Homo sapiens: one gene and its partners. The protein of the gene in region 3 interacts with the protein of the main gene of each other region in a biochemical or structural test. Each region holds a gene or a part of one and is shown on either strand. Other genes may lie near its edges.

What was found.
Region 1: the proteins of RARA (region 3) and LRIF1 form a complex in vitro, tested with the Homo sapiens proteins (one study listed by BioGRID).
Region 2: the proteins of RARA (region 3) and POU2F1 form a complex in vitro, tested with the Homo sapiens proteins (one study listed by BioGRID).

What each region holds. Positions count from the first base shown.
Region 1 is NC_000001.11:110,953,923-110,960,922, reverse strand, and holds part of LRIF1 (ligand-dependent nuclear receptor-interacting factor 1), read left to right. Parts: intron 1-7,000. UniProt on the Homo sapiens protein: Together with SMCHD1, involved in chromosome X inactivation in females by promoting the compaction of heterochromatin.
Region 2 is NC_000001.11:167,412,886-167,419,885, forward strand, and holds part of POU2F1 (POU domain, class 2, transcription factor 1), read left to right. Parts: intron 1-140; coding exon 141-229; intron 230-976; coding exon of another isoform or gene 977-993; exon of another isoform or gene 994-2,614; coding exon 2,615-2,925; 3' UTR 2,926-7,000. UniProt on the Homo sapiens protein: Transcription factor that binds to the octamer motif (5'-ATTTGCAT-3') and activates the promoters of the genes for some small nuclear RNAs (snRNA) and of genes such as those for histone H2B and immunoglobulins.
Region 3 is NC_000017.11:40,326,145-40,333,253, forward strand, and holds part of RARA (retinoic acid receptor alpha), read left to right. Parts: exon of another isoform or gene 1-1,340; intron 1,341-4,407; exon of another isoform or gene 4,408-4,467; intron 4,468-4,712; 5' UTR 4,713-5,074; coding exon 5,075-5,252; intron 5,253-7,109. UniProt on the Homo sapiens protein: Receptor for retinoic acid. Retinoic acid receptors bind as heterodimers to their target response elements in response to their ligands, all-trans or 9-cis retinoic acid, and regulate gene expression in various biological processes.

The sequences.
Region 1 (7,000 bases), on a different chromosome or scaffold from region 3:
AGACTGACACAGGTGTACATTTTAGATAACGTTGGCAGTCTGGATTTGAGGGTGAGTGATCTACATATAAGGATCCTATTTCAGTTGTCTTTTCAGAAATTCTGAGGGCCTGAACTAGCTGGTACAGTACAGTAGGGGTTGGATTCAAAGAAATATAGAAGGGAAAATAGACCGACTTCGTTAATGAATTGGCAGGAAGAAAGGGGGATCAATTATGATGCCAGTTTTCTGGGTGGATATTGGTAAATTAACTGAGATGAGGAACACATCAAGAAAGCAGTCAGATATTTGAATATGAAACTCAGGCTGAGTCAGAGCTGAGACTAGAGATTTGGGAAGCATCACCTTAGAGGTACTATAATGAAAGCCTGTGATTATATATCCTACAATAATAAGAATTAAGACATCATGTGATTGGCCATTGGCAGCTATCTTCCCATAACCATTTGTATTCAAATGGGGAGCTAAACTTAAGTGTTCTCAGCAGGGGGTTTGGTTTGACTGGAATGATGATGCTTCATTGTCAGTTCAGTATGCATTTTGTTGTGTACAGTGTTTTATTTTGTGATTTGAGTGTGTCTGTGTGTGTGTGAGGGAGAGACAGACACACATACTATAGAGTCTAAATGAAATCTGTCATTAATCTCTTAGTTTATACATTTGAATTTTTTGGACCCTGTTATAATGGGGTTATGCTAAAGTAAATATAGAAAGTAGATAAGCTTTCTCAAGGGGAGTGTGTAATTCTAAGTAAGTTATTAAATGTTTCCAAATCTCCATTTTCTCAAGTATAAAATGGGAATGGCAGTTCATAACTTTCTTGACTGTTTATTAGGATTAGAGTTAGTAACAACTGGTATATCTATCATGTACGCAATACATGGTACATATTATTGGATAGATAACTATGTTATGTACTTAGATATATTATGTTCTATATGTATATAATGTTATGTCATAGATAGTAAGAAAAGGATTTCCTAGCAGTTGAAAAAAATATATTTTGCAAAAATATCTATAAAATGTTCATCAGCCTTCAACATTTTTATTAGTCTATTTCTAATATATGAATGCCTCATATCAATATTAGAATAGTAAAAAATGTCAGAAGTTATATAACATTACCAATATGTTTAATGTGCCTTTTTATTAAATTTCTCATTCTTTTTTTTTTTTTTTTTTTTTTGAGATGGAGTCTCGCTCTGTCGCCAGGTGGAGTGCAGTGGCTCGCTGCAACCTCGACCTCCTGGGTTCAAGTGATTCTCCTGCCTCAGCCTCCCAAGTAGCTGGGACTACAGGCGTGTGCCACCACGCCCGGCTAATTTTTGTATTTTTAGTAGAGACGGGGTTTCACCATGTTGGCCAGGATGGTCTCGATCTCTTGACCTCATGATCCGCCCACCTCAGCCTCCCAAGGTGCTGGGATTACAAGCATGAGCCACTGCACCCGGCCATATTTCTCATTACATTTTTAAAAGACCTTATCTTACCTTATTCTCAGAGACCAATTGCATATTTTAATGGAAGATGATAACTGTTATGCTCCCAGGCAGTTATTTCATTTACTTCTCCTAGTAAGCTTTATTTTCCCCTATTTAACAAATGAAGAAACAGATTCAAAGAGGATAAGTACATTTTCTAGTCAACTTGTAATTATAAGAACCAGAATTAGTAGCCTGTAATCTTTCTAATATGTTCCTCTTTTCTCTTTTAAACTGTTAAACTGTATTATTTTTCAAATGTAGTTTCTCAGTTTGAACACCAGCTGGTTTAAAGTAATTACTTTAAAGTAATTAGGTGACCAGACTAGAAAATGGGATGCAGAATCTGGTTCTAGTTTTAGTTCTGACATTAGCCCGCAGAATATGATCTTTCAGAAAACAGAATCTTTGTAGGACTTTAATTATTTAATCTCTTCAATGGAAGGCTCCTTCTAGATATGAAAAACTGTATATTGATAGAAGGAGTACGAATTTCATCCTGAGTTATTACTTCTTAGCATTCTGCAGATTAATTTTTAGAACTCATTACATTTTGTTGCCAAGAAATCATGGATTTTTAAAAAAATTATACCTTGTAGGATTCAATTCAGCTAACATTATTGTGTGCAATTTCCAGTTTCTGAATTAGATGCGGAGTATATAGATATGAATAGGATAATCTACCCTGCAGGAATTTATGGTCTGTGGTAGATTATGTGACTCTCACTGATACACTGACATGGAAGAAGCTTAATTTTTCTTCCTTTTTTTTATTTTTTGGAGGTGAAATAGAGGAAAAGAGAGGGAAAAATTTAGTGATCAGATTGGAAAATAGCTCACACAGTATAGTTTTTTTTATAAAGCAGAAATATAGACATCATATAAAATACTATGCTTGGTATTGGAAGGATATTTGCAAAATAAATTATAAAGCCTCTCACCTTAAGGAGTTTCAGTCTTATTGAATGAAACAATACTCATTTTAAAAAATTAGCTAATAGATTAAAGTCAATAAAGAAAGCATTATATAATTTCCAACATTAATAGCACCAATGGGAGTACATTCGGGATTCCAAGTTGGAAGAAATTAAGCTGGAGTGACTGGCAGATATTTTATGGAAAAGATAGAATTGGAAACTAATTTTATATTGTTGGAGAAGAAAAATAATAATACTTTGAGTAAATAATGTAATATACATGGCATATTCCAGAATAGCAAAGAGATCTCTCTGGTAAGAGCAGAGATTTCACATTGAGAAGTTGTGGGTGGTATTGTTGTAGAGATTGGTTGGAGCTAGATTGTAGATGATTTTCGCGTCCAGCTGAATTGGCAATGATGAATACTAAAACTTTGAACAAGAGATAACAGGATGAAAACAATTTTAGTCTGCCAGAGATACATAATAGTCAATAGTGGCTGCAATCAGAAAAACAACATCAGCAAAATACTGTAGGGATGAGAATGATGAGTGCTAGACACATCTGATGAGGATCTCATGTAGATGGTGGAAGTCACAATGATGAAGAAAGAAAAGATGGATGAAATGGGTTAAAAAGAAAACCGTATAGACTTGATGATTCAGTATGCATTTATTAAATGTTTGCCTTTTGTAAGGACATATGCAAGGTTCTGTGGATGAATTTAAAGTAAATAAGAATGATGATAAAGACAAATCAGCAATGACTAGGTGATTTGAAACCTATATGATGTGGAAAATATTGGCGCTGCCATATGATTGAATGGTAGGATAGACTACTACTTTTCAATAGAGAGTAATTTTAACTTCGTAGATTTAAAGTGATGGGATTAAAATGTTTGGTAAGACATCACAAATATGGAACTGATGTCAATTCCAGTAGGGGACAGGAATAAAAGGATATAACTATGGGAGTCATTATTCCAAAGAAGATAGTTGAAAATAGTTGAAGCCGTGAGAATTGTTGCAGTCTTTTTTTTTTTTTTTTTTTTTTGAGACTGAGTCTTGCTTTGTCGCCCAGGCTGGAGTGCAGTGGCGCGATCTCAGCTCACTGCAAGCTCCGCCGCCTCCTCACTCCATTGTCCTACCTCAGCCTCCTGAGTAGCTGGGACTACAGGCGCTTGCTACCACGCCCGGCTAATTTTTTTTTTTTTTTTTTTTTTGTATTTTTAGTAGAGATGGGGTTTCACTGTGTTAGCCAGGATGGTCTCGATCTCCTGACCTCGTGATCCACCTGCCTCGGCCTCCCAAAGTGCTGGGATTACAGGCGTGAGCCACCGCACCTGGCGAATTGTTGCAGTCTTTAAGGAAGAATGTCTTGAAGGAGAAAAACAGGGTCAAGAAATGTGGGATAGTTAAAGGAGAATGCTTAGAATGCAGAAAATGAGTAAGGGAGCATTAGGAAAGTCAAGAGAAACAGAGGTTGTACACAGTGGAAACTATGATAGGTAAGAGGATCAATATGGAGGGATAATTAGTTGCAACAGAGAGGTACCTAGGGAATGAAGATAAAGACAAATTTAACTGTGAGAACATATTTGGTAATCTTTGAGAATGAAGTTTTAGTAGAATAATAGGAAAGAAAATAGACTGCAGAAGAAAGTAGGCTTCAAGATAACTTTCTGGCATATCACTTAATTGCAGCTTGTTAACACCATCTACCAACTTCCTGTCACTGAACTTGGCGCTTAGTTCACCATCTAGCTCACCATCTTCCCTCATGTGATTTCAATATCCGTATGGATAATCTCTTTGTCACCTCATCTTTATTACAGAGATCTTTTCCCCCAGTGATCTTATTCTCTGTTCTGTTGCACCTATCTACTTTTGTAGTACTTATTATTAGATGAAATTGCTGCATCTACGAAACTGTTTCACGCATCCTGTTTTCTAAATGCCAGTTCCTGTATTTCTAGCTGAGTTGTTTAACTGTTCCTACTGTAACTGTTAACTTTATCTGGCCCTACAGACCAATAATCCCTTTATTTTATCCCTATACTTTAGCCTTTTATTCTCTCATTTTCTTCCTATCCAGTTTAGACTCTGTTTCATTTTAATAACTCTTATCAATACCTTAAATTCTTTTGCTCTTCTTTGATTTTTTTGTTGCACCTTCCTGATGCCACCCCAACCCTGGATGAACTCAGTATGCTTTCTCTTTATCTGTGCTTGGTGTGACAAGAAAAATCTCGAGTACAGATTAGTACCACTATAAATTCATAACCACTACCTGTCTCCCCATGCCATCAACACATCCTGGCAACTCTAATATCTTCTGTGGTCAGTTTACTCCTTCACGAAGACTGTTCCAATCTTTGATTATCCTCAAATCTTTCCATATTTTTGCTCTTACTTTTAGCAGATGATGTCATGTGATTTTTCATAAAGAAAATAAAACCCATTAAATGAGAATTACCTCAGCCTCCTAACCCCAAAGTTGTATGCTTACCTGAAAATGCACATAATCTCTCCTCCAGTGTTGCAATGGAAGGAGATAGGTCTCCAGCTCTCTTTAAGGTTGAGTCCCTCCACCTGTCTCTCTGGTTTCCATTTCCTGCCTCCTTCTCATTGTGTATCCCTTTTGTTCCTTTATTACCAGTTTCTTCCCTGAACTGGCTCACTTGAGTATTTACATATGTTCTGGTTAATCTAACCTTAAACAAAGAAAAAGGAAAGATCCCTTCTTTGATTCCATTTATTCCTGTAGCTTCCTGCCAGTCGTTCTCTTCCCCTTGACAGTCAAAGTTTAAAAAGAGTTGTCTACTTGCTTCATACCCACTCCTCAGCAACTTCTTTCCCCTACCACACTGCTCTTATTAAAGCCATCAGTGATCTTCACAGCACTGTTTTCAGTGTACATTTTTAATCCTTATCCTATTTGGCATCTCAGAAACTTTTAGTATAATTGCCCAATTTTCTTAAAATCCTCTGTTCCTTTGGCTTAACATTGCATCAGAAGCAATGGTTTTCTTCCTACGACTCTAAGAATAATGGAAGGCCACTGCAATGTTTTAAGCAGGGAAAGATCAGTTTTAGTGTGCTGAGTAAATTGAAAGGTAGAAGATATGATTGGAGAAAAAAATCAGTCATGAAGCTATTGTAGTATTCTAAGCCAGAGATGATGTTTGCTTGGAGTAGAGTGGTAACAGTTGATTTGGAGAGAATTGAACAGATGAAAGGAAATTTAGGAGACAATATCAACAGGATTTTGTGATCACTGAATATAAGGAATAAGAAAGGAGGATTTATCTATTCTGACTTAAGGCACCTAAGGTAGATGAGATGCTATTTAGCAAAGAAAACCCTGCAGAAGATGGAACTTGGGGGGATTAGGATGGGCAGAGATCTGCTGGCCATGTTGAATTTTAGGAACGTTTGAGATTCTGAATGAAAATGTTAAAAGGGAATTTGGATGTATAAGCCTAAATTTCAAAGAAGCCACAGATAGAAATATTGAAATTGTTCATGCGTAAGTGATAATTTAATTGAAGTTATGCATTGAGAAGAAAGCATCTAACAAAAGAGTACAGAATAGGAAGAGAAGGATTCTTTCTAAGCTTTGGTAAACTCCCAACATTTGAAAGTTGATTCAAAAGTATGAGTTGGCAAAGAAGACTGAGGAGCCACTACAGAGGCTACTGTTACTCTTTTGATTTTTAAAAATCAATTAAAATATAAGAATGCACAGAAACAGAGTGGGCCAGATTAGGCCCAGAGGCTACAGCTTACTGACCCTTTTTTCCTGATGAGCCTGGTGCTTAACTTAAAACAGACACTTGGTAAATTTTTGTGTAATGACTTAATATTGAATATGTTCTTATCCAGGTCAAATGTGCTTTTCTTGTGGTGCAGGGAGGTAATAAAGGTAGATTTTTCCTCTTAAAACCCTGAAAGCAAGAATTCATCCTTTTCTTTGGGTTTATTCTCTTTAGAAGTTAACTTTTAATTTATTAAAAGTCAGTGTGTGACCAGCCTGGACAACATAGCAAAACTTTGCCTCTATAAAAAATACAAAAATTAGCCGGGTTTGGTGGCGTGCATCTGTGGTCTCAGCTACTTGAGAAGCTGAGGTAGAAGGATAGCTTGAGCCCAGGAGGTGGAGATTGCAGTGAGCCAAGATTGTACACCTACACTCCAGTCTGGATGACAGAGCCGGGCCCTGTCTCAACAGCAACAATAACAAAATGTCAATGTAATATTTTGACCCACTCTCACGTGTCCAAAAGACTTTTAAATTTTTGTAAGGATATAATAATGTTATTCGGGCTGCAGAAAGGTAAACCAAATTTCTACGGATACATAGAATTTTGGGTATTGATTTTTATTAATACCTGAGAGTTTTAAAAACATACCTTTATGCTTTTGAGAATCCTAATTATTATCGTTATTATTTGCCCTTGAACTTTTGTATTTATTTGATCTTAGTTATCTAAGACCATGCTAGGTCTATGGTATATGGATGCTGCACTCATATTGGTAGAATATAATATGAGAGACAGTCTATAGACAAACATATTAATATATGATGACAATCTATGATAT
Region 2 (7,000 bases), on a different chromosome or scaffold from region 3:
CCATAGAAGAGTAAAGAAAAATAAATATTTCCACCTATTTCCCCAGCTGGATTTTCGTTTTGTAAGTTCCTTTTGGTGTGTTGTCAAAATGAGACCTGCGTCTGCATGGTAATAAAGTGACTCCTCTTTTGGACTTGCAGAGGTGCCTTACTCAGTCTGAATCCAGGGACCCTGAGCGGTGCTCTCAGCCCAGCTCTAATGAGCAACAGTACACTGGCAACTATTCAAGGTCAGTAGAAGCCTTTTTCTTAATTTGGTGGCATGCACGTGTGTGTGAGTGTGTGTGTGTGTGTGTGTGTGTGTGCTTGAGACAGAGATAGAGGAAGTCTGCTTTGCTAGAGGTAAAAGTGATGGGAAAGAGTCAAATGCTGACTAACTTGTTCTTGAGAACTAAGAAAATGTCCTCGTAAAAAAGCTTTGTAAGAAAAGTATAGGTGTTAGTATGTGAGTAAAAGCAGGAAATATACTTAGTTTGGTATATGGTAAAAAACCAGAACTTTCATGCTAATATTGATCTTATGTGAGTAGACTTGAAGCCAGATTTTTTTCCCCTGATAAGTTTATCCCAAGTATTAATCTAAAACCCGTCTCTAGGCAAACTTGACCAAGTAAGACTCTCCAGTTCCCAGCTGCACTCCTGAGAAAGCTGTGCATGGGAAAGTCCTGTAATGAACAAACATTGGAACACATCAGGTGGACCTCAGGAGTGCTTTTAATTCTCATTAAGTTCTGCTCTTTTTATATCGCCGTTAGTGTAGAACATATATTCTCTTGGATTATAATGTCTCTTTTCCAAGCTCAGCTGGGTTCCTTTTGCCTTTTAGCATGTTACCCAGGGCAATATTCATTCCATATACTGAAGGGTTCCACTTGTTTAGTACCTAAGCTTTCTGTCTAAAAATGTTTACTGTTATGTGATTCAGGGAGACAATTTGAGAGACATCACTAATTAATTAGAATTTTTTTCTTAAAATAGTTTTGCTAAGAGGCTGAGGCAGGAGGATCACTTGAGGCCATGAGTTCAAGACTGCAGTGTGCTATGATCATGCCTGTGAATAACCATTGCACCCCAGCGTGGGTAACACAGTAAGACCCTGTTTCTAAAAAAAAAAAAAAAAAATTAAAGTGTTTTGTGCATAAATGAGAATTCTCAGGGCCAAAAATAACTATTAGCCAACCTAAATTAAGATTAATATTTCACAGGTAATATCTCTAACAGTGTACTAGAGAATGTTAATTACAGACAAAACCAAACCATGGCCTAGATTACCTTACATTATATTGACTTTCTGATTGACTAAATCATACCTGAATTGGTTAGCTCTAAAGCTTTTGTTATATAATAATTTTTTTTTGCAATAGAATTTGTGATAAATCACTTTTTCTTCTGCTTTATTGAATGTTTCTGTGCTGTGTTGATACTACAAAGGCAAAATGTCTTCCCTAGGGCATGATTGACACTCTGAAAAGATACTAAGTTTGGAATCTCAGAAAAACTTCAAGCTGCACTGTCTCACTGTTCTGTACTATTTGTATGAGCAAGGCCAAAGTCAGAGGCATTCCCTTCAGCTATATTTTATGTAAGAAATCAAATGTGTAATGCCGTTAGAAAATCCCTCAAATCTACATGTAGGAGTGAGGTTATATGGCTAGAGAGATTTAGGAATGTTGCCAGACAACAGGTTGAGATACTAAATGAGAGTCTCGATTATTTTAAATAAAATGTTGATGATGCCTTCTTTGGGGAAGCAACAGCATCATAGAAAATTTCTCACCCATTAAAGCACATCCTAGACTTAGATCACCCACCTACATCATTATGTCTAATTTCCTGCTACAATAGATTCATCATTCTCCTTTGCACAAGTCATAGAAATCAAGTATTTAGCCTCAGGAAGTGAGAAATTAATTATACCTTTTAACTTTATTTGGTGATACATAATTTATTTTAGAACTAAAGCCTTTTTGCAAGATGATTTTCATCTTGTATATCATAATATAAAGCAGTGGTCCCCAACCTTTTTGGCACCAGGGACTGGTTTTCTGGAAGACAGTTTTTCCATAGCCACATTGTGGTGGCGTGGTTTCTGGATGACACTGTTTCCACCTCAGATCGTGCTCTATGAGAATCTAATGCCGCCACTGATCTAACAGGAGGCAGGCCTCAGGCTGTAATGCCCACCACTCACCTCCTGTTGTTAATGCTTTAATCACTTCAGCTAGTTTGTCCTTTGAACAGAGGTAGTTTAAAATCAGCAGTCTTCATTAAAGACAAAATTATTGGATTTATCAAATATGTCTAGGTAAATGAAATAAACTGGTGATTTCAAGACACGAACATGACTCTAATTCATTAGACAGTTATTAGCTGTCTTCTACCCCTGCTTGTGCCCATTAAATTAGACATTTCAGTCTTTTAGGCTCTTCAAAATTAAAAATAAACTACAATTGGTATCAATATAGCACTGTGTTTGAGGAAAAAAATTCAGTGAAGGGCTATACTTTTTCCTGGTGGGTTGTAGGAAAATGATAGACTTTTGATGTGTTATTTGGCTTCTCCAGGATGATGTTAATGTTTTCATTCCTGCCTGTTTTGGGGGGTTTTTGTCTGTAGCTCTTGCTTCTGGTGGCTCTCTTCCAATAACATCACTTGATGCAACTGGGAACCTGGTATTTGCCAATGCGGGAGGAGCCCCCAACATCGTGACTGCCCCTCTGTTCCTGAACCCTCAGAACCTCTCTCTGCTCACCAGCAACCCTGTTAGCTTGGTCTCTGCCGCCGCAGCATCTGCAGGGAACTCTGCACCTGTAGCCAGCCTTCACGCCACCTCCACCTCTGCTGAGTCCATCCAGAACTCTCTCTTCACAGTGGCCTCTGCCAGCGGGGCTGCGTCCACCACCACCACCGCCTCCAAGGCACAGTGAGCTGGGCAGAGCTGGGCTGCCAGAAGCCTTTTTCACTCTGCAGTGTGATTGGACTGCCAGCCAGGTTAATAAACTGAAAAATGTGATTGGCTTCCTCTCGCCGTGTTGTGAGGGCAAAGGAGAGAAGGGAGAAAAAAAAAAAAAAACCACACACACCCATACACACATACCAGAAAAAGAAAGAAAGGATGGAGACGGAACATTTGCCTAATTTTGTAATAAAACACTGTCTTTTCAGGATTGCTTCATGGATTGGAGAACTTTCTAACCAAAAATTAAAAAAAAAAAAAAAAAAAGAAACAAAAAAATCAAAAACAAACAAAAATAAGTGAAAGGACTACTTATCATTTCCAGCAGTCATGATGACAAGTTAAGGTGGGTTACCAATTCCAATATAGGAAGGGGATTTCTTGTTTGTCTAAATTTCTTTTTTTCTTAAAAAAAAAAAATCATTTTTATGGGTCTGTTGTACAGGCCATTAAGTCATAACAAGGTGTTTATAATCGTATCAATTGTGTTGGGGGTTCCTTTCTTAACTGGTACAATTTAGGCAGGCCTGTATTACTGTATTATTATTGTTGTTGTTGTTATTGTTTTATATATATAGTTTGGACATGTTTATTATCTCTTGCTCCTGGATCCTATTTCAGTGAGCTCCCACACTGTGGGGAGGGAGGGTTTTGGGGTAAGGGGAGACTTCTGTTCTTAACTGTGGGGAATGTTCTTGCTGGTTTCCTTATCCTTGATGACTCTTACAGAGGTGCTAGAAAATTATTTTCTTTTGCCACTTATGCAAGAGGCTTGGTGCAGAAGCTGAAGGCAGTGTGTGCAAACACTCCCATTCCACACACGCCCCTTCCCCTCCCCACATCAGGTGGTGCCTTTGGAGCACTTTTGTGTAGGAAGGAATTCCTGCTGAACTGTAGCTCTCACTCACCCCCAAATCATTGAATGACCCTGAGGCCCAGTTCCTGTGGTGCAACAGTGCTGCTTTCTGCTACTTTCAATGGGAACAGCTGTACATGTTGCAGGGCAGGATTTGGTTCCCAAGAGCAAAGACTACTGCAGACACCTGACTTGGTGGTTCTCCTGATTTCTTATCTCCTGAAAAATGCTCCTGCTGTTGGTGTGTTTGTTTGTTTGTTCCATTTTGTGGAAGTTTTTCATCCAAACTTTAACTAACTTGGCAAAGAAAAAAAACTGACTTACTGAAATTGGGAAACTTTTCCCTTCTTTTATTTTCTAAAGGAATTCTACTAGACTATTTTCCATTGATAATATATACAAAAGAGGTGTGATGAGAAGGGTATAAGGTTACCACCTTTTCCTCTAGAGAGCCACAGACTTCCTTTCCACTGGATGGTTTATAAATTCCTCTAACCCTGAGATTCTTCTTGGTTCTCTGACTAAAGGAGGCACTTATTAGCCGGGCTGGGATCTGTAGAACCTTTGAAGAAGGACTTTGAGCAGGAACTTTGCACACACCTTAAGTGTCTCCTTGGTTTGTTCATGATGCTCCTGCTAGGTAGGTCTAAATGGCAATACACATCTCTTTATTCAATGTAGAAAGTAATTAGCTCTGTAATTATTTTCAGGGTGTTTGTAGACTATATAAATGAGCCCATTGAAAAGGAAGAGTTTGTGAAAGTGGATGAAGAGGAATAAGGGTAACTTGGAGATTAAATTCCTTTTTTTGTCAGTGTACTGTTGTTATGCCATCTGTACCAAAAAATTTTCCAAAAGACTGGATCACTGCAGTGCAGCTCATCTAAGTTCCCCTTCTTATTGGAGTTAAAGGTTCCCATTTGGTGGCTGTGGGTGCTTGCTTAAATCTCTGGTGGTCCCAAGACTGCACTTTTTCTCCCTTTCGAGCTGGGGATGTAGAGAGAACTTACAGGTGATTTTTATTCTGATTGCTTTTGTTTGTGTCCACAAGGGAGCTTGGATTCTGTGTACTTGTCTCTTTCCCATTGTCCAGTAAGGCAGTAAATACAGACACAATGTGTACTTTTGTGTGTGATTCAAGTGGGAGACAGTCTGTTAAAAGGTCAGAAACATTTTAGTCCCCTTTAAAATATTTCTTTTAGTTTATTTCTATCGTGTTTTATTTCACAGATATTTAATTACCACCCCTAAATTTCCTCCTCTTACCCTTCACCTTCCCTAAAATCCTTCCAAAATCAGTGAACTGCAAGCAGGGAAACTAACAAATGTCCATTCACCCTTTTTGTGTGGTGTGTTTTTTTATGTTTTGTTTTGTTTTTTAACTAAGCTTGAACCAAAGTCAATTTTTAGCAAGCTGCTGTACTAATGGACTAGTTGATAACGTGCAGTTCAGACACATCGAGGAGATAGATGCTACTGACAATTTCTTTTTCATTTGTCTTTATTAATTTTATATGAAAGTTGCTGCTTGTTTTTAATCTTTTATGTTGGTAAATTGTGATATCCTCTGGGCAGACATTAACTTGATGTTTAACTAGTTTATTAGGTTGGTGTGTAAATAGAATGACAATGTCAATTACTAATTTCTCTCCTCTCCATTCACTTTTTCTCTGTTGTAGTTAAATTTAATCTTCTATCCTGACTTGACATCTCTACCTTTAGTCTGTGGAAATGATTTTAGGGCTATCAGTAATGCTGTAGCTGCCCATAATAATGAGTCCCTCCCTTGGGAGTGGTGAAACTTAGAAGGAAGGATTCAGGGAGGGAAATGCTGGTACCCAGTATACTGGATTAGAAGTTATAGCATTAATTTCTCAAAATTGCTACCAAAGGAAGTGTGGAGTCCCAAGGGACTCAAGCTCAGTGAGGTAAGACAAAGGGCAAGGAAAGGCTGTTTGGGTGGTTTTTTTTTCCCCACATATGGTTTAGAAAATGATCCCTTTCCCAAACAAAACTCACCAACAGACTTTAATATTAGAAAAGATACTAAGCTTTAAATGTCAATACAGTGGTCTTTTATTCCCTGCCCTGTCTATATTTTCTACTCAATTTGGGATAAGGGGATTTTATGTGAAGCACTTGATGAGGGTAGACCAGCATAAAAAATCTGTTTAAAAGAAGAAATAATCTTTAGGAAAAGATAAATCTTTAGATAAAAATAAATTTTTTTCTCTTTTTTTACTTATTTAAAAATAAGTTGTGAAATGAAAGGTACATTTACACATGTACACACGAAACACTAATATAGCTTTTTGGTGGTTGTTTAGTTTAAAATCAACTCCCTATCCATCATCCCTAGATATTCTACTTATCGTATTGCTTCATGAACACCTTAGTCATTTTTTACTTTACGTATATATTTTTTTATCATCTCAAGAAATGCATTTTGAATTGAATGAACTATCTTCTAAGCTAAGATACTCAAATTTAACTTTTAGCCACCTTATATGGGAGAGCCTGGAAACTAAAGGGGACCAGGGACCATTTGACCAAAAGAGGTGTTTGGTGGAGTTTCTGCATTTCAAAGAAGAAAGGCCAGATAGGTCATCACAATTCATTGTATTATTCTTTTTTTTTCCCCTTAATGTTTATGCAAATTTTATTTTATATTTCTGAATTTGGTTAGCACATACTAAGCCAAAGACTATTCTAAATGCATTTATAGTGAATACTATGTATGCCCATGGTAATGGGTCCTCCCTAAGGAGTGGTGAATGTAATTGTGTGAATCCTGCTTATCACAAGTGGTGCAATTTGGTCATAAACTTTATTTATACCCTGTATACATCTGAATAACAGAGCAGAAAGACCTAAAAAAGGGCTTCTCACAGGAACAATATTACTATGTTGTTCTAAGAAAAAATAAGTTGAGTGCTGTATTAGTTTAAGTGTTTCTAAAGTTCTATAGGCAGCATTTTAGAATTAAGAATTGTGTATATCCATTAACTGATATAATTCACATGTCCTTTTATTTGTTATCAGAAAGATCAATACTATCCCAATTTATTCAACTTGTTACCCAAGAAATGGAACCAAAGGAATCCAACTTTCATTTTGTGTAGAATCATACCTACTTATACTTAATGCTAGCACTGTAAGAAATAAGTCTTTTTTGTTTAAAAAAGGGAAG
Region 3 (7,109 bases):
ATGTTGCCCTGGGTGGGGTGAGGCAAGGGAAAGCAGGCCGACTGCTGAGGGGCACCAAGGTGGTGGCAAGAGGCATGGGGATGGAGGGCTCCAGTTGCCCGGGCCTCCCCTGTGCCAAGCTCTGGTCTGGGTGCTTTCCAGGACTTCCTGTCTGAAATCGCACAGCTCGTTGTTGAGGTAGGCAGTTCACAGGCGAGTAAACAGATGCTTAGAGAGGTTAAGTGACTTGCGTAAGGTCACCCAGAGTGGCAGAGCTGAGATTTGACCCTTCCGACTTCTGGTTCTTTCTCCCATCTTCGTGGCTCAGAAAGCTCTCACCTTTTTCTCTAGGTGTGTGACTCTGGGGTGTAACGCGTGGGCAGCTAGGGATGCTGATGCTGGAGAAGGGATCCTGGCACCTTCTGAGGGTGAGAGCGGCCCCAGTGGGCAGGAGTGTGGGGCTGGTTGCAGGTGCTCTAGCCCCCTACCCCTTTTTCTGCTGTGCTTAGGCTAGGCTCCATATATTGGAGGTGTGGGCCTGTGGTTTTCTCTCTCTCAGGGGAGGGTGCCCGTGGGCAGTGGAGGTGGCTGGCATAGGGTGGAGGTTGGATGTGGGTAGTTTGTTTTCCCTCTCTTTGGTACTGGTTTCGATTCTCTGCCGAGGCCTTCTCCACCCCTGGGGTGTAGGGGGCTGGGGCCCAGGTGTCTCTCTGAGGGTCATAGCTTCTGATGGACCTTCTGAGGCAGAGTCTGTGCCCTTTTGGGCCCACCCTGGTCATCCCTACCCTTGCCCATCCCTGTTCTCTGGTCTTTCTGGCCCTTGGCCTATTTCTGTGACCTTTAGCCCTCCTGCGGCTCAAGGCCCTCCCCAGGGAGCTGAGTAAATTTGCACTGAAATTTGCAGGCAGAGCTGGGTTAGGCTTTTTGGAGGCTCTGATAGGGGTCTGGGGAGGCCTTCCAGCCTTGCCCTGTAGTGTGTGTGGGTGGTGGGCTGGGGGTGAGGTGGGGGTAGTGGGGATTGAAGTTTGATTCAATTTCAAACTCCACTGGGGCAGAGTTGAGGTGGCTGTGGTTTTCTCTTCTCTGGGAGCAAGGGTGGGTTCCAGAGGGTCCAGGCTGGACTGACTAAACTGGCCTCCCGACCCCCAAAGGCTGGGTCAGGATGCCTGAGATCTGGAGTGATGGCTTTCTGGGCCTCAGCGTGGGTTACAGAGGCCTCACTTTGGGTTAGCTGCCCCTTGGGCCTCACCTTGAGAGAGGCAGGCCTCTGTGGATGTGAATTCACCTGAGTGTTTGTGGACCTGGTGCATGGGCTGGGCCCACAGGGAGGACCTCAGAGCATCTTCTGGCAGAAGCAGCAGGTACAAGGGCCACCCTGGCTGTGTGAGGTTCGGAGAATGTACAGTTTGGGAGACTGTGGGGCTGTGGTTGTGTCTTTGGGGAGCTGTGTACTGGGGCCCATGCATGCAGTTTCTGAGCTGTGTTCATTGTGTGGTGGAGCCCAGGTGTGGAGAGATGGTATCTCCAGGTTCCTTCTCCTCACATGCATGCCTGCACACACACAGGCTGGGGCTGCAGGCGTGCTCTTGCCCACCCAGATGTTTTCTGTAGACCTGCATGCATGAGTTTGTATGTGTATTTGTGTGTGAGGGTCCAACTGTAGGAACTGATGAGGTTCTGCCAGCCTCTTCTTCCCTTGCATGGCTCCCCCAGCTCCAGTTCCCGTTGTGTGGGGCCCCACAGGAGTTGGGAGGGGGCCAGGGCGGCAACTGGTCCAGTGGGTGGGGCCCCTGTTCCTCTGACATCAGCCCTCTCAGCCTAGGAGGGAATTGGCAGGGGCCTGGGGTAGGAAGGGAGCTCTTTATTCAGGAGTGAGGAGAGAGGCCCTATGATTGTCATAATGAGTAACAGTAAAAATCGTGGTTATTAGCAAGGTCCAGATTTTACTCCTGGGGCAGCCTCCCCTCCCTAGCCCAGTACCTGTCCCCTCCCACCCTCTCTCCCTCAGTTCCACACAGGCTGGCTGGCTCAGCTGGGCCAGAATTCCTGGCCTCTTCCACAGTGGCCTTGGCAGGAACTCCCCCTTCCCAGGCCTGGTCTTCAACCAAATGCTGGCCATGTGCTTGTCCCCTGGACTCCAGATTTGAGGCTAGAGTCTGGAGTTCAGAGCTTGGAACCTAGTGTAGCCTGAGCTTGGGGTGGAGTGGCAAGGTATAGGGGGTGTTGGAAATGGACAGTCCTTATTTTGAGTCTCTGTGGCCCTGTTTCTTTTCTTTCTTTCCTCTTCTTTTTAAAACAGCTTTATTGAGATATAATTCACATACCATAAAATTTACCCATTAAAGTGTACAATTCAGTGGTTTTAGTATATTCAGAGTTGTGCAACTACCACCACAATCAATTTTAGAACACTTTCATCACCCCAGAAAGAGCCCCCATACCCAGCAACAGTCACTTCCCATATTCCTCAAATCCACGCCCCAGCTCCTGGTAACCACAAGTCTGCTTTCTGTCTCTATAAATGTGCCTATCCTGGATATTTCATATAAATGGAATCCTACAATACATGGTCTTTGTAACCGGTATAATGTTTTCAAGGAATATCCATATCATAGTATCAGTACTTCATTCTTTTTTTGGCAGAATAATGTTCCATTGTAGGGACATACAACATTTTATTTATTCGTCAGTTGATGGACTTTTGGGTTGATTCCACTTTTTGACTATTAGGAATAACGCTGCTGTGAATGTTCATGTATAAGTCTTTCTGTGGACTTACGTTGTCATATCTCTTGGGTAGATACCTAGGAGTAGAATTGCTGGGTCATATGCCATCGCTGTGTTTAACCTTTTGAGGAACTGCCAAACTGTTTTCCAAAACAGCTATTCTATTTTACATTCCCACCAGCAATATATGAGGATTCCAATTTCTCCACATCCTCGCCAGTACTTGTTATTATCTGTCTTTCTTATTAGAGCTAGCCTAGTGGGTATGAAGTGGTATCTCATTGTGCTTTTTTTTTTTTTGAGATGGAGTCTCACTCTGTTGCCCAGGCTGAAGTGCAGTGACACAATCTCGGCTCACTGCCTCCCAGGTTCAAGCAATTCTCGTGCATCAGCCTCCTGAGTAGCTGGGATTACAGGCATGTGCCACCACGCCTGGATAACTTTTGTATTTGTGTGTGTGTTTTTTTTTTTTTGGAGACGGAGTCTTGCTCTGTTACCCATGCTGGAGTGCAATGGTGTGATCTCAGCTCACTGCAACCTCCACCTCCCTGGTTCAAGCGATTCTCCTGCCTCAGCCTCCCAAGTAGCTGGGATTACAGGCACCTGCCACCATGCGCAGCTAATTTTTTAGTAGATTTTTGTATTTTTTAGTAGAGATGGGGTTTCGGCATGTTGGTCAGGCTGGTCTCAAACTCCTGACCTCAGGTGATCCACCTGCCTCAGCCTCCCAAAGTGCTGGGATTATAGGTGTGAGCCACCGCACCCAACTGACTTTCGTATTTTTAGTAGAGACAGGATTTTGCCATGTTGGCCAGGCTGGTCTTGAACTCCTGACTTAGGTGATCTACCTGCCTTAGCCTCCCAAAGTGGTGGGATTACAGGCGTGAGCCACCGCCCCCAGCCTCATTGTGCTTTTGATTGGCCATGTTTCTTTTTGTCTGTCTCTTTTCTTTTGTCTTTCATATATGTATTTTTCATATATAAATACATGCATATGTATTTATATATAACCTGTACCCAAAATGGATTTGAAACATCCTCTTGTCCTCGTATGGATATGTTCTTCGTGTTCTCTCTCTTTGCTCTTGTTGCTGCCTATCTGTCTCACTGTGTTATGGAATCTCTGGGTTCATCTCTGTCTCTGTCTCTACCCCATGGTATTATCTGTGCATATCCTCTGGTGCCAGCTGTTCAAACAGGGTGTGGATCTGTATTCACACTGGTGAAGGGGGCATCTGGCCTTTCATCTTCTGCCCACCTCCCACCCCAGTTCATGTGTTTTGCTTCTGCAGACAGAAGTATGTGGGTGAACCTTGAGATCAATCTCTCCTTCATTGCCTGGGGGTAGGAGGCTTCCTGGGCGGTCCTTGCCCTCCTACACATCGCCTACCCCTGGACCATCCATGCTGTTAAGCATTGGAGGTGATACCTAGGAGTCCTTGGTTCCCATTTTCCTATTAGTGTGTACGTAAATGGGCCTCCTCCCAGGGCCTGTGGGACAAACCCGTCTGGGGTGCTGGGGCTTGGATCTGGGGGGGAAGTGGTGTAAGAGGGGCCCCCTGGCTTAGGAGTCATTTTTCTGAGAAGTGCCAATGCTTTAGGGAAGCGGCTTTTCCTCCCCCTCCCTCTTCCCCCCCAGCACACGTTCTCTGCATCTTGACCTCAGGTAACCCTCACTGGGGGAAGGAGGGCCAGCTGCCCGTTTCTGCTGCAGTGATCCCTTGAGGTGGCACTGTGGACCCTTTCCCCTCAGGACTGTGGGTGAGAGGCCCTCCAAGGTTCTGGGCTCTGTCCCTGTCTCCCCAGCCTGGCTGTGCTATCTGCCACCCCCAGCAGTGTCTGGGCCCTGCTTCCAGGTCATCTCTGCCAGCCAGGCATGGTGCCAGCTGTCTGCTCAGCTGGGTGCCACGGGAAAATCTCCGGCAGCCCAGGTTGGGGAGCTCCACGGGGAATGCCTGTGTGCCTGTTCTTCAGTGCCCACTCACCTGTCTTTCTTTTTTCTGCAGCATCACAGGACATGGCCCCCTCAGCCACCTAGCTGGGGCCCATCTAGGAGTGGCATCTTTTTTGGTGCCCTGAAGGCCAGCTCTGGACCTTCCCAGGAAAAGTGCCAGCTCACAGAACTGCTTGACCAAAGGACCGGCTCTTGAGACATCCCCCAACCCACCTGGCCCCCAGCTAGGGTGGGGGCTCCAGGAGACTGAGATTAGCCTGCCCTCTTTGGACAGCAGCTCCAGGACAGGGCGGGTGGGCTGACCACCCAAACCCCATCTGGGCCCAGGCCCCATGCCCCGAGGAGGGGTGGTCTGAAGCCCACCAGAGCCCCCTGCCAGACTGTCTGCCTCCCTTCTGACTGTGGCCGCTTGGCATGGCCAGCAACAGCAGCTCCTGCCCGACACCTGGGGGCGGGCACCTCAATGGGTACCCGGTGCCTCCCTACGCCTTCTTCTTCCCCCCTATGCTGGGTGGACTCTCCCCGCCAGGCGCTCTGACCACTCTCCAGCACCAGCTTCCAGTTAGTGGATATAGCACACCATCCCCAGCCAGTAAGTCTGGGTGTGGGGGCTGGGGTGGGAAGGGACTGTGGAGGGTGGCAGGCCTCAGAGCTTGGGCTCTGGGCACGTCTGTTCTGCTGTGAGTGGAAGGCACGGTGAGCGACAAGGTCTTCTCCAGTTGGGGTGACCATCATTTGAGGTCTTAAAAATGAAAGCCCTATGGCCTATAGGCTGATCATGGTGGTTGTGTTTGAAGTTGGGGGTGGCAGAGGGGGAGATGAAACCATGCTGTTCTGGCCTGCAGTGGCCCTCGCACCCCTCTTCTGTGCTCTGCTGTTGGGGCCTTATAAATAGCTCCAAGGACTGGACACACAGGTTGGAGGTGGGTAAACAAACCTCTTGACATTTGATGGAAATGGCAGCTCTACCTAGAGTGAGAGCAGCACACCACCTACGCCCCACCCCCACTCAGTGCCTCTGAGGGAAAGGGCTTGAAGGAGCAGACCGAGGAAGGCTGGCTGGAACCCCACCTCTCCCCCTGCCAGCTCCACCCCCGGCCATGCTAGGATGTGCTTCCCTTTGTGGGGAGGATGAGAGGGAGGGGCCCACGGTCTAGCTGGGTGGATAGGGTGAGTGTCCCAGGAGGGGACACTTGGCCTGGACTCTGGCCTCGGACGCATGCATGGTCTTGGCAGGGCCTGTGTTTTCCTTGCCTCCACCCTCTGCCATGGAGGTCACTTGTTGGCTGGGCAGGGGTCTCAGTACCCTTCGCCGGCTGGCCGAGCCAGGTAGTGGGAGGTGGCGGCAGCTCTGGCCAGCTGGCAGAGTCCAGGGCTGGGGCCTGCCAGGCCGCTTACAGTAACTCTGGCCCCCAGGGCCCAGCTGGGCGCCAGGCCAGGGCTGGGGGGAGGAGGGAGCCGGGGCCTGGCCTGGGACGGGAGAGGGTGGAAGCAGCAGAATGGGCCATGGGCTGCTGGCTGGCCGGCTGGTCAGCTGCTGACCTGGGAAACGTGTCCCCACCTCTCCTGGCCAGCAGGGACTGCACACCTTGCCCTGTGCACCCACCACCCCTCTCACGGCTGCTGGCAAGCTGCCTGGCACCACTGCCCTATGTGCCTGGCTGGGCTGGGTCAGTGCCCCCTTCTCAGTGTGGGGGCAGCGCTCTCTCCCCGGAGCCAGGGAGTCTCTTTGTCCCTGGGGCAGGCCCTGGCTGGGCGCCTCACTGCCCGCACTGGCTGGGTGCCCACCACCACCACTGCTTCCTGGATCGCCTCCTCTGGCTTAGCTGTGGCCCCCTCCCTCCCAGGCTCCACCAGCCACCAGGAGCAGGGACTCTATGTCTGTGTTTCTTTGTGTTCCCCGCCCTTTATGCCCTGGGGCCAGGGGGCAGGCAGGTGCTGCCTCAGTTTCTCCTGCCACCCCTTATCAAACCTTCATCTTCTGTTTCTGCTGTCTCTTCTCTCCACCTCATATAGGAGTATGGGATGGATGGAGTCTGGGGACTCTGATTCTGGTCTGGTCCTATAGTCTGTGTTAGTGATGGGGAGAGGCCAGCCTCTGGGGTTTGGGGCTACTAGGGAATGCATTGGTGTATCTTTGTAGAATATTCACTGCATTTAAAGGGACTGTGATTTACATTCTGGACTTGGATCACTGGAACTAGAAGACTGTCTGCTTCCTGACAGGGTAGGGTTTTATTTTTATTTATTTATTTATTTTTTTGAGACAGAGTCTTGCTCTGTCACCGAGGCTGGAGTGCAGTGGTGCGATCTCGGCTCACTGCAACTTCCGCCTTCCGGAATCAAGCAACTCTTCCGCTTCGGCCTCCCATGTAGCTGGGACTACAGGCGTACGCCACCATGCCCGGCTACTTTTGGTATTTTTAGTAGAGACGGGATTTCTCCATAT